2 separate regions of the Homo sapiens genome follow, and region 2 is linked to region 1. A link means that fine-mapping ties the variant in region 1 to the expression of a gene that starts in the linked region. Tissue or cell type: testis. Region 1 holds a variant in brackets; the other region holds the start of a gene. All regions are shown on one strand. Distances are from middle to middle.

What was found. PIP is the estimated chance that this variant, and not a neighbour inherited with it, causes the effect.
Region 2: CD86 starts here. The variant in region 1 is fine-mapped to the expression of CD86 in testis (GTEx, PIP 0.98).

The regions. Positions count from the first base shown.
Region 1 is chr3:122,009,329-122,014,595 of GRCh38, forward strand. The region is part of intron 1 of ILDR1 (immunoglobulin like domain containing receptor 1); the gene reads right to left. Among named protein-coding and RNA genes, the nearest start is that of ILDR1, 10 kb to the right of the region's middle. RefSeq lists an enhancer at 3,517-3,566. The variant A/C (reference allele first, on the strand shown) is at 3,106.
Region 2 is chr3:122,052,789-122,057,788 of GRCh38, forward strand. CD86 (CD86 molecule) reads left to right here and starts at 2,574. Exons shown (of 7, transcript NM_175862.5): 1 at 2,574-2,715. The coding sequence starts at 2,702. It also overlaps a transcript of ILDR1 not described here.

The DNA.
Region 1 (5,267 bases):
ACACACACACACACACACACACACACACACACACACAGGCTTTAGATTCAGATACAGCTGGGTTCAAATTAAACTTTAATATTTACTTGAATTTTGGACAAGTTATTTACTCTCTCTCTGAGCTAGTTTCTCAGCCATGAATGAAGATGATGATAGTGCTAGCCTTATCAGGTCCTTGCAAGAATGCAATGAGATAATCTACTGTCCTTGGCATGAAGCCTTGCACATACACTGCCACATTAGTGTCAGTATGTGAGTCTCTTCCTTTTTTTCCCCTTATTACGAGGGCCAAGGAGAAAGAGGTTGGAGTTGGGGTTTTCTCCAACAGAGTTTTCAAACGGAGCCACCTTCATTTTGACCAAGGTACTCCCACAAACAAAACAAATGTAGTTATTATCCTACGGAGCAGCTAGGTGGGCCTGTCTTGAACGCTAGAGCACATGATTCTTGGGTCCTGCCTGACCTACTGGTCACAGCCCTTGTAAGACTGTCCCCTTAAACTTCTGATAGGCACCTGCATCTGGGTTTCTCACATCCATAGACAGACAGCAGAATGCTGCTCAGGACAGGCACTCACAGAAATGACCTGACCACCTATCTCCAGGACTGGGCTGTGATGCAGATGCCCCATGGCAGATGTGCTGGATAGAGACTCTGCGGCAGTGCAGGCGAGAGCTGTGGGCAGGAAGACTTCATGAAAGGAAATGATTTAACCTAGGCTCCAAGAAGCAGGTAGAACTAAGATCACGCATGAGAAGTAGGAAGAAGGCAGAGAAACTCATTGTTTCAGTAAGCAAGAAAGGAGGGAGCAAAGAGCCTTATTAGGAAGGGGCAGTTACTTGGGTAACCTGGGGGAAACCAATCTAGCTGTGTCTCCAGCTTTATGGAAAACAGAGAAGATAAATAAGGCGGGGCTGGTGGTGGTGAGTGGGAGGTGGGGCGATGGGGTGAAGTCTAAATCACAATCCAGTTCAATTTCTTGTCCATGGATCATCACTGAAGTCTTTTCTGAAGAACAGTAATACAGTGAAAGTGGTGTTTTTAGGAAGATAGATGACTTCCCCACTCAGCTGTAAATGAAAAAAAAATATATATCATTTTAAAAATAAACCTTGAGTGGTTTTGGGAAAAAAAGCTGCTGTCTCCGTAAGCTGTAGAGTCCCAGAAATCAGGCCAATTAGAATGGAAGGGCCGGTGACCAGCATCTCAAGCCTAACATGGCTTTCTTAATCTAATTTTTGGTTCTTGTTCTTTCTCTGTGACTACCCCTTTGTGTGTTTTTTGTTTTTTGTTTGTTTGTTTCTTTTCTTCCAGAACTGACCTGAAATAGACCTTGGAGATCTCACCAACCACAGTTTTATCTGAATAGTAGAAGCAGCCACAGATAAGATTTTCACAATGAATAGGTTGCCATTGTCAACACTGGCTTATTTTGTTCCATAACACACATACCGATGAGAAGAGAGAGGAAAACACTGATATTGGTCTAAATAAAATCTTAGGTTCAACAGCATCTTCAAATATATTCTTTTATATACTAAATGTGATACCTGGGAGAAGATTAGCTGTGCTCACTTCCTGTACAACAAATCTGAGGCTTGGAAATTTAAGGGACTTGTCTGTGGTCATTCGTTTTTTCTAAGGGGGTCAGAGTCGAGATTCTGTCCCTGAGCAGTGCTCCTGCCTCTCAGCTTGGCTATTCTTTAAATAAAAGATAATTGGTATTCACAAGTTTGCAAATAATTTGAGCTGGGGGCCAGGCTATGTGAGCAATAATTAAAATATAACTGGTGCAGTCACTCTGACACAGTAAAATAAAGAACATGTAGGCTCCTTATTTGGCTGAATGTAATTTGATATAAATAGCAGTTTAATCAACACTCTAGTCAATATCACCTGTATAGAGGTAGCGCATTTGGGAGCAGGGAGACCAGGTTTGCTGGGGGTCAGAAAAAGGAATTTGGTTAGAGTCAGAAATTGCTGTGGGGTAGCTTTGAAGATTGCAGAATCTGACACCCTTGAGGAGGGGAAATGGGGAGAAAGGTGATCACTCAGCTCCCCTTCCATGAATGCCCTTATTGTGGACAAACCACATTTGGGGTGACAAAACTCACCTTTACCAACGTCAGCACTGACTTTGCTGCTTGGGTACTCTTTTATCTTCTCTTCTATTTCATCCCTGTGTGAATATCAAGCCTTGATATCTGCCAGGTTCAACAAGTTCTGGCCATCTTGAGCTCATTCACACTCTCTCCAGGGGTCTGCCAGCCAGCCCCACAGCATCCTGTGCAGACCTCAAACGTCCACCCCCTGCCCTGTCTCTCTTTCTCTCTCTCTCTCTCTCTCTTTCACACACACACACACACACGGGAAGAGTCCCAGGAGAAGAGGTACTGAACAACCCAGCAAACTCTTCTCCCATATCTCAGTTGTTGCTGTGGGTCCTTAGCATCTATTATGCACCGGGTGATGTACATTCTTGGTCTCTAAATCTCACAAACCCCCTCAGCTAGGCAACAGCCCTGCTCATATAGGTGGGCAGAAGTTCAGCTCAGAGTATAAGCCACACCCCCACGTGTCCAACATCACATACCTAAAAAGTGTCAGCATCAGGATTTGAGCTTGGGCCTTGCTGACAACAAATCCCAATTTTTCCCAAGCAAGCAAGCTTGATCTTCCAAAGTAGAAGTCAGGCGCCAGGCTCTTAAAAAGCAGTCAGATTTTCCAGATTGGGAAGGAAAGGCAGTAGCAAGACAGTCCATCTCAAAGGCAAAAATCACCCACTTTCTTTTCCTATATCCTCTAACTTCTCTGTAAACCTAACCACACTGGGCATGCACAGAACTAAGCAGGTGGAGTTTTCAAGAAAGGACCCAAAGCAGCAAATCAGGCTGAAAATGTGAACAGGATCAAAAAAGAGAAACGTCCTGATTGTAGTCATCCTGGTTGCAACTTTGCTCTTTCAGGCTTACTACAAGTTTTCAAATTCTTAATTTTTTTTCTATTCTTAAAATTCCTTTATCCTGTGGAATTTTCTCCTCCCCAGTTCATTGACTCCTCATTTCCTAGCTGTCTCTATCATTTTCTCTCAAAAATGTTAATTCT[A/C]GAACCTGACTCCCTGAGTTCAGATTCTGTCTCCAATCCCTAACAGCTGAATGGTAATGTAATATAAACAGCAGTTTATTAAACACTCTAGTCAACATTAGTTGCTGGGGGTCAGAAAAGGGAATTTGGTTAGAGTCAGAAGTTGACCTAGCAAGTTATTTCCAAACTATTGTTTTCCTTTGTATGCAAAACTGAGATGAAGATAATACCTGCCTCAGAGGGTTGTGGTGAGCATAAAAAAATGTCCCCCATTTAGCAAAGAGCCTGGCACATATAGACATTCAACAAACCTAAGCTATCATTTGTATCATTTGTACTTATCTTGACTACTTCAGGAGTTCCAGATCCACTGAGACTAGCATGTAAAAGCATTTTGAAAAAATGATACAAATGTAAACTATCATGATTGTCTTCTCTTTGCAAAATGAGTTGGTGCCTCAAAAGCTTCAAAAGTTTCATAGCTTTGTACCCTGGTGGACTCATTCACAGCTTGCCAGGCTCTGTGAAAGAAGGGAAGGAGACCTGTCACATGGGTAGAAAGGAAACTTCAGATGAGATATCAGAGCTCATGGGAAGGAGAGAAGGGGAAGGGGATTCTCTGATTCCCGCCATCAGGTACTTTCCAAGGCCAGGCTGCTGTGCTGAGTGGGGACTACCATCCTACACTAAAACAGAAGGAAACACACCAACCAGGGCAGAGTATCTTTACAACTAAATGTCATCTGTTCCTAAATACATGCACATCTTTGCACATTTTTTTATTCCTCATTTCCTGTGTAGTATTAGATTTGGCAAGAAGGAGTTTTAGTTTGTAGAAGATACTCACACAGTATAGGAATACAGGTATATATTTTAAAATATTTTTAAAATTAAGAACTATTTTGAAGGACTAGATGGCACTTCCCCTCCTTTCCTATGAACAGGCCTGCTTGGAAGGGATGGTAGGCAGGAGGGTGAAGGCAGGTCTTTGCCGGCAAGGGGCAGTGGCCTGGGACTGACAGGAATTGATTCCTGAGTGTTTTTCAGGTATACAAGCACCCTGACTCCATGTGGCAGGTTAACAAAATGCACACAGGTTCAATGCTATCAGAGTTTATGGCTGAGCAGGCTATCTCACCAAGCATATTTACCATCAGTGCCTGTTACATTTCCTCAGATAACAGTGCAAATATGAGCGGAATCAAGGAGAAGAGGGACTAGCTATGAACAAGAAGGAGCAAGACAAGAAGTGACTAGCTATGGACAAGAAGAGACAAAGACAAGAGGGAGTGGTCACGAACAAGAAGGAAAGGATAGGGAGAGCAGAGAGAGGAGACCAGGAAAGCAGATGGGTGGGGAGCGGAATGATGTCTAGGTACTGTGTGTTTACCCAAGGTCTGGCATGCAACACTTAACAGTGCAGCACCCCGAGAAGGAAAGTGCTATGTGCTGAGCACTTACTATGTTGTTTGACACGGTATTGGGTGTTTTATTATACATTATCTCATTTAACCTTTGCAAGAAACTGATGAGATAAGCTTTACTTTCTCTCAATTTCATTGATGAGGAAAATTCTGAGAGATTAAGTAATCTGCTTAAGGCCACACAGCTAGAAAGTAGCAAAGCTGGATTTAAGCTTAGACCTCCACTACACTACCATGTCTTCTGGATAAGTTTTCTAAATGGTTGAGATTTAACCCTTTGAGGAATATTCACGCACTTAAGGGACATTCACAAATTTATTTTAATCATTTTGTACAGAAGCTCTTCTTCCTTTTTGTTTGTTAATACAAAATAAATAAGTGAGAAACTTCAAACAGTGGAGGGGGTATCAAGTAAAAAGTTCCTCCTTGCTCACCATGAATTCCACTTTCCAGAGGTACTGCTGTTGACAATTTGGTCTACATCCCTTCACATCTTTTCCTATGTTGTTTTTTTTAAATTAATCATATTATGTACATTGATTTGTGACTTTTTCTTCAAACTAATGATATATTGTATATCAGTATATGCAGATCTATTTTTTTTTAGTAACTGCATGAACATTTCACTCCATCAATGAGCCACTTTTATTTACACATTTTCCAAATTATGGACATTTAGGTTGTTTCTGACTTTTAAGTATTATAAGCAATGCTGGCATTAATTACTGAAATGAATATGATTATATAAGTACGTCTTCA
Region 2 (5,000 bases), 43 kb after region 1:
AAACTCCTGACCTCAAGTGATCCGCCTGCCTTGGCCTCCCAAAGTGCTGGGATTACAGGCATGAGCCACCGCGCCCGGCCAAAAAGTCAGAACTTTGGATATATGGTCTAGTCTTCTCATTTCTTCTTCAGGGAGAAGCCAAAAACTGGGAATTTCCTCCTAACCATGTGGCCCTGTGCCGAGAGGACAGACTATGGTGAGGGTATACCGTGAATTTTCCTACTGGCTTCAGTGCAGTTGTTTTTTTTGCTCACCTAGTGTGATGTAGCCTCTTAGCCAGCTTCTGGATTTCTCACAAAAGGAATTGGTCTGTGTATAGTTAAGTTAGTGTCTCTCTGGGAGGGAGCACAGGCTGGGGTTTCTCATTCTGCCATCTTGCTGACGTTCACTGTGGTTTTGATTTGCATTTCCCTAATGACTAGTGGTTTTGAGCACATTTTCATGTGATATTGGCCATTTCTATATCTTCCTTGAAGAAATGTCTGTTCAACTCTTTTGCCTACTTTTTAATTGTTTGTTGTTTCTTCTGCAAAGTTGTAGGAGTTTTTTTAATCATATATTCTGGATATCAATCCCTAAACATTTATTGTTTTAAGGAAATAAATTTTGAGATAATTTGTTATACAGCAATGGATAACTAATAAATACTAAAAACTCCTAAATGTATATACTAAATATATTAATTAGAAAATTGTAATATAAAAATACTAAAAGCTAAAACTGTCTGATATTAGGAAGATAATTTTACTACAATATATACCTTTTTTGTGTGTATGAGACAAGGTCTCATTATGTTGCCCAAGATGTTCTCAAACTCCTGGGTTCAAGCAATCTTCCCACCTCAGCCTCCTGAGTAGCCAGGATTACAGGTATGTGCCATTACAGCCAGCTTTCACAGTGTATACTTGATGTACTATTAATGTACTATTTAATGACTACTAAAAAGTTTATGATAACAGGAGAAAATGCTTATGCTATCTTAAATAAAAATTTGAGTGTATGCATTGATACCAAGAAATGGAAATTTGAGTGTGTACACTGCTACCAAGAAACTGAAAAATGACATCCCATACCTTTAATATTTAATATTTATAACAAATGAGGTTTACATGGATTTTTTTATCTCATCTTATTTCTGATGTGTTATGTAGTTATAAATACTATTTTATTTGCACTCCTGCTCTGCAATAATTTTGAAGATAGATAACTTATATTATTGCTGTCTTCATTTTTTAAAATTCTCAAATCCAGATGAAATTATCAAAGTTGATAAAATAATCATTGTTCTATCTTCTTATTTGAAGATTAATAATTGTGTTGATTTTGCTTCCTTGCTCTAGTTAGCAGTGATGTCATCTGCTATTTTTAAACTTCCTTGAAATAATATATGTAATCTACTTCTAATAAGTTTTTCTTATTTAGCATTTTGGTCTAAACTAATTTATAATTATTTAGCCTTATTTCTCCATGTTTAACTTGCTTTAAAGCTCAGCACTGGTGTTTTCAGCCATGGCTTCTCCATTTTAAGGCTATTTTAATTCATTTATTATTCTGGAATATATCCTTAAATAATTTATTTAGGAAGGCTGTCTTGGTGGTGGTATTTCTGTTGCAGTTGTTGTTTTCTTGCCTGCTTGGTGACATATTTCTATTGACTTGACACTTAACTGGCATCTTATCTAGGTAGATAATGCTAATTCAAAATTCTGCAGATATTGTTCTGTTGTTTTTTGCCATTTAGGGTTGAGTAAGATGCCAAGTTGTTTTTTGTTTCTCTGTAGTCATTCTGTTTTCATTTTGTTTTTAGCTTTGCCTTTGGAATTTAAAATGTTCAAAATGATTTGTCTGGATGAGAATCGATTTTCATAACTTTTGCTTTGATACACTAAACAGTTTGAGTTTCTAGATGATGCCCATTTTAATTCATACGAGGAAATATCTTCTAGTATAGTTTCTGCTTGATTAATTCTATGTTTGTCTCTTAGGGACATCTATTAATTTTATAATGCTGCCTTTTTTTCAGACTTCTGTTTCAGAATATTCGCTTTCATCAATGTAATCCTTGGCTATAGTAGGAATGAAATAATAAAAGCAGTAGCTTCTGTCTGCCCTCCTTGGTTATGCAGTCCTTACAGAACATCTCCCCATCTCCCATCCCCCCACCCCAGCTCAGTGAAACTCTCCACACTTTGGTTGTGGAAATTGGCAGGGTTAGGTGGCTACTCACTCCCAATCCACATCCACAATAAATCACTTTTTATTATCTTATCAAAATCTGTAGAATGCCTCTTTATTCTATTTTGTTGCTGCGGAGGTTTGTTTTCTCTTTCTAATTATTTTATTTTCTAGGTTTTTTGAGGGAATTTCAAGAGGGGAGATTTTTTATTCAGGCTCATCTTAACGTCATGTCTGGAACTCAAGCTACTGAATTATATATTCTTTAATACATATAGACCTACGTCAATGAGTTTAAACTGCAAGGAAAGGGTTAAATTTCTTCCTCAAGTGTGGTCAAAATCTGTAGAGAAAAGAGGAACAGCTTCTCTTAAAGAAAGTTAGCTGGGTAGGTATACAGTCATTGCCGAGGAAGGCTTGCACAGGGTGAAAGCTTTGCTTCTCTGCTGCTGTAACAGGGACTAGCACAGACACACGGATGAGTGGGGTCATTTCCAGATATTAGGTCACAGCAGAAGCAGCCAAAATGGATCCCCAGTGGTGAGTAATAATTCTTATTCTTTGCAGAGAAGTTATGAGTTGTGACTGCAGTGAAAGGCTGAGGTTGAAGATGGTGCTTTGATGTGTGTCCTTCACTTAGTTCCTAAGTGGAGAAGCTTTCTTTTTCTACAAAAGATCTTTGGCACATAAAGGCAAGAATTATTTGCAATGCCCAAAGCAGTTCATTGGTGGTAGTTATATATATTTTTAGGTGCCTAATTTTGGTTTTGTAAATCTGTTATTCAAATACTGAATGTTACAGTCATTGATTTTAGTGAAGAATCAGGAATTTTTAAAATATCTGCATAAGAATGACAAATAACAGGGAATATGTTTTTTGTCTACCAGGGTCAGTTTGGTCTGAGGGTGGAGGAATGAGATAGAGAAGGTAGAGGGAGAGAGATCAAGAAAAAGAAAGAGAAAAAAGAGGTATAAGGAGAAAATGCAAAACTCAGTTAATATGTCATAATCAGGCCATGGGAGATTCTGGGCAGGGTTGGGTAGTGGAAGGAGGTAGAGTGATTAAATTAGTTACCATGTATTGAACATGCATGATGTGCTGGGTACTTTACTAGTGCTATTTCATTGAATTTTATTCTTCACAATGACTTTTGGAAAGACATCATCATTCTTTTTGACAGATGGGGTAACTGTGGCTTAAAAAACTTGCCCAAGTTCACACTATTCATAAGGGGTAGAGCTAAAATCTTTCCTGCCCGCTTCGTGGTGCGCCAGAAGGTTTCTCCATGCTGTGGAGACTTCCTGGAAGGAGTCACACCCGCCCTTCTCTTGGGTGGTGGCAGCTGGCGCCAGTCACTATGTATTTATTTATTTTTAATTATTTATTTTTGAAACAGAGTCTCGCTCTGTCGCCAAGCTGGAGTGCAGTGGCGCAATCTCAGCTCACTGCAACCTCCGCCTCTCGGATTCAAACGATTCTCCTTCCTCAGTCTCCTGAGTAGCTGGGACTACAGGCGCCCACCACCACGCCCGGCTAATTTTTGTATTTTTGGTAGAGACGGGGTCCACCATGTTGGCCAGGATGGTCTCGATCTCTTGACCTTGTGATCTGGCCACCTCGGCCTCCCAAAGTGCTGGGATTACAGGCGTGAGCCACCGCGCACCCGGCCGTCACTATGTATTTATAATTACTGTTCTTTGAAAATCGAAGTAACTTTCATCTACCCAGTGCTTACTGGTTTGAGAAAAAGCTTTGTTGCTTTTATTTCAGAAGATTAAAATTTAATTTTCCAGTAAAGATTCCTTTTGCTCCAGTGGAATTTTGAAGCGTTATACTTGTATGAAGAAAAAAAGAATTTCAAAATTTATAATTTTTGTGGTACCATAGAGGGGATACTACTTAATTATGCTAGCACTGTCTGCAGAGGTCTAAAAAACCATAGGCTGCTGTCTATATTGAACTTGTTAAGATTCCTTTTGTTTCACAGTGCCTGAAGATTGGTCATGAACCAGTAATAGCCATTAAACAATGTCTGTTCTCATAAGAGATGAAATAAATACAAATTAAAACAACAGTGAAGTATCATTTTTTCTCTATCAAAGAGATAAATATTAAGTTTTAAAAAGCAAGCAATCAAGAACCCTCTATCTTGCTAAGAAGGGAGGATTATTTGTACCCTAGTTGCGCACTAGTGGTGATATCATCTTTCTGGACAATAATCTAGTGATACATATCAAAAGCCTTTAAAATGTATATGCCCTTTAACCAAGCAATTCACCTTTTAGGAATTTATTCTAAGATATAATAATACATGTTTGTAAAGTTTTAGTGATGGATATTTTTCTTGCTATTGTTTCTAATAAGGAAAATCTTAGAAACAATTTACGTGTTTAAAAACAAGTGATTGGATGATTATGGAACATCCATAATGGAATACCATGTAATTATTTAAAATTCCACTGTAGAACAATTCATAATGTGTTTAGTTAAAGGGGAAAAATGCAGAACGAACAGTGCTATCACTTTTATACATGATACATGTATACAAACAATATTAATCAGAAATATAGGTAGTTTGTATTTTCTACTGTGTGCTTTTCAATTTGAATCCCATCTGTAGGCAGAAAAATAAAGTTAAATATTTAAGATTTAAAAAAAACAATAGCTGGTTTTTTTCAGAGAAGTAACCATCTAGTGATGTGTGATAATTTATAAGTTGTGAGATTCCATAGTTAGGGCTTTAGCCCTTTGCATTTATCTTTCTTCATCTCTTGAATCCTCTTCAAAATACACCCACTCTACCCATAACTCATTAGATCTTGAA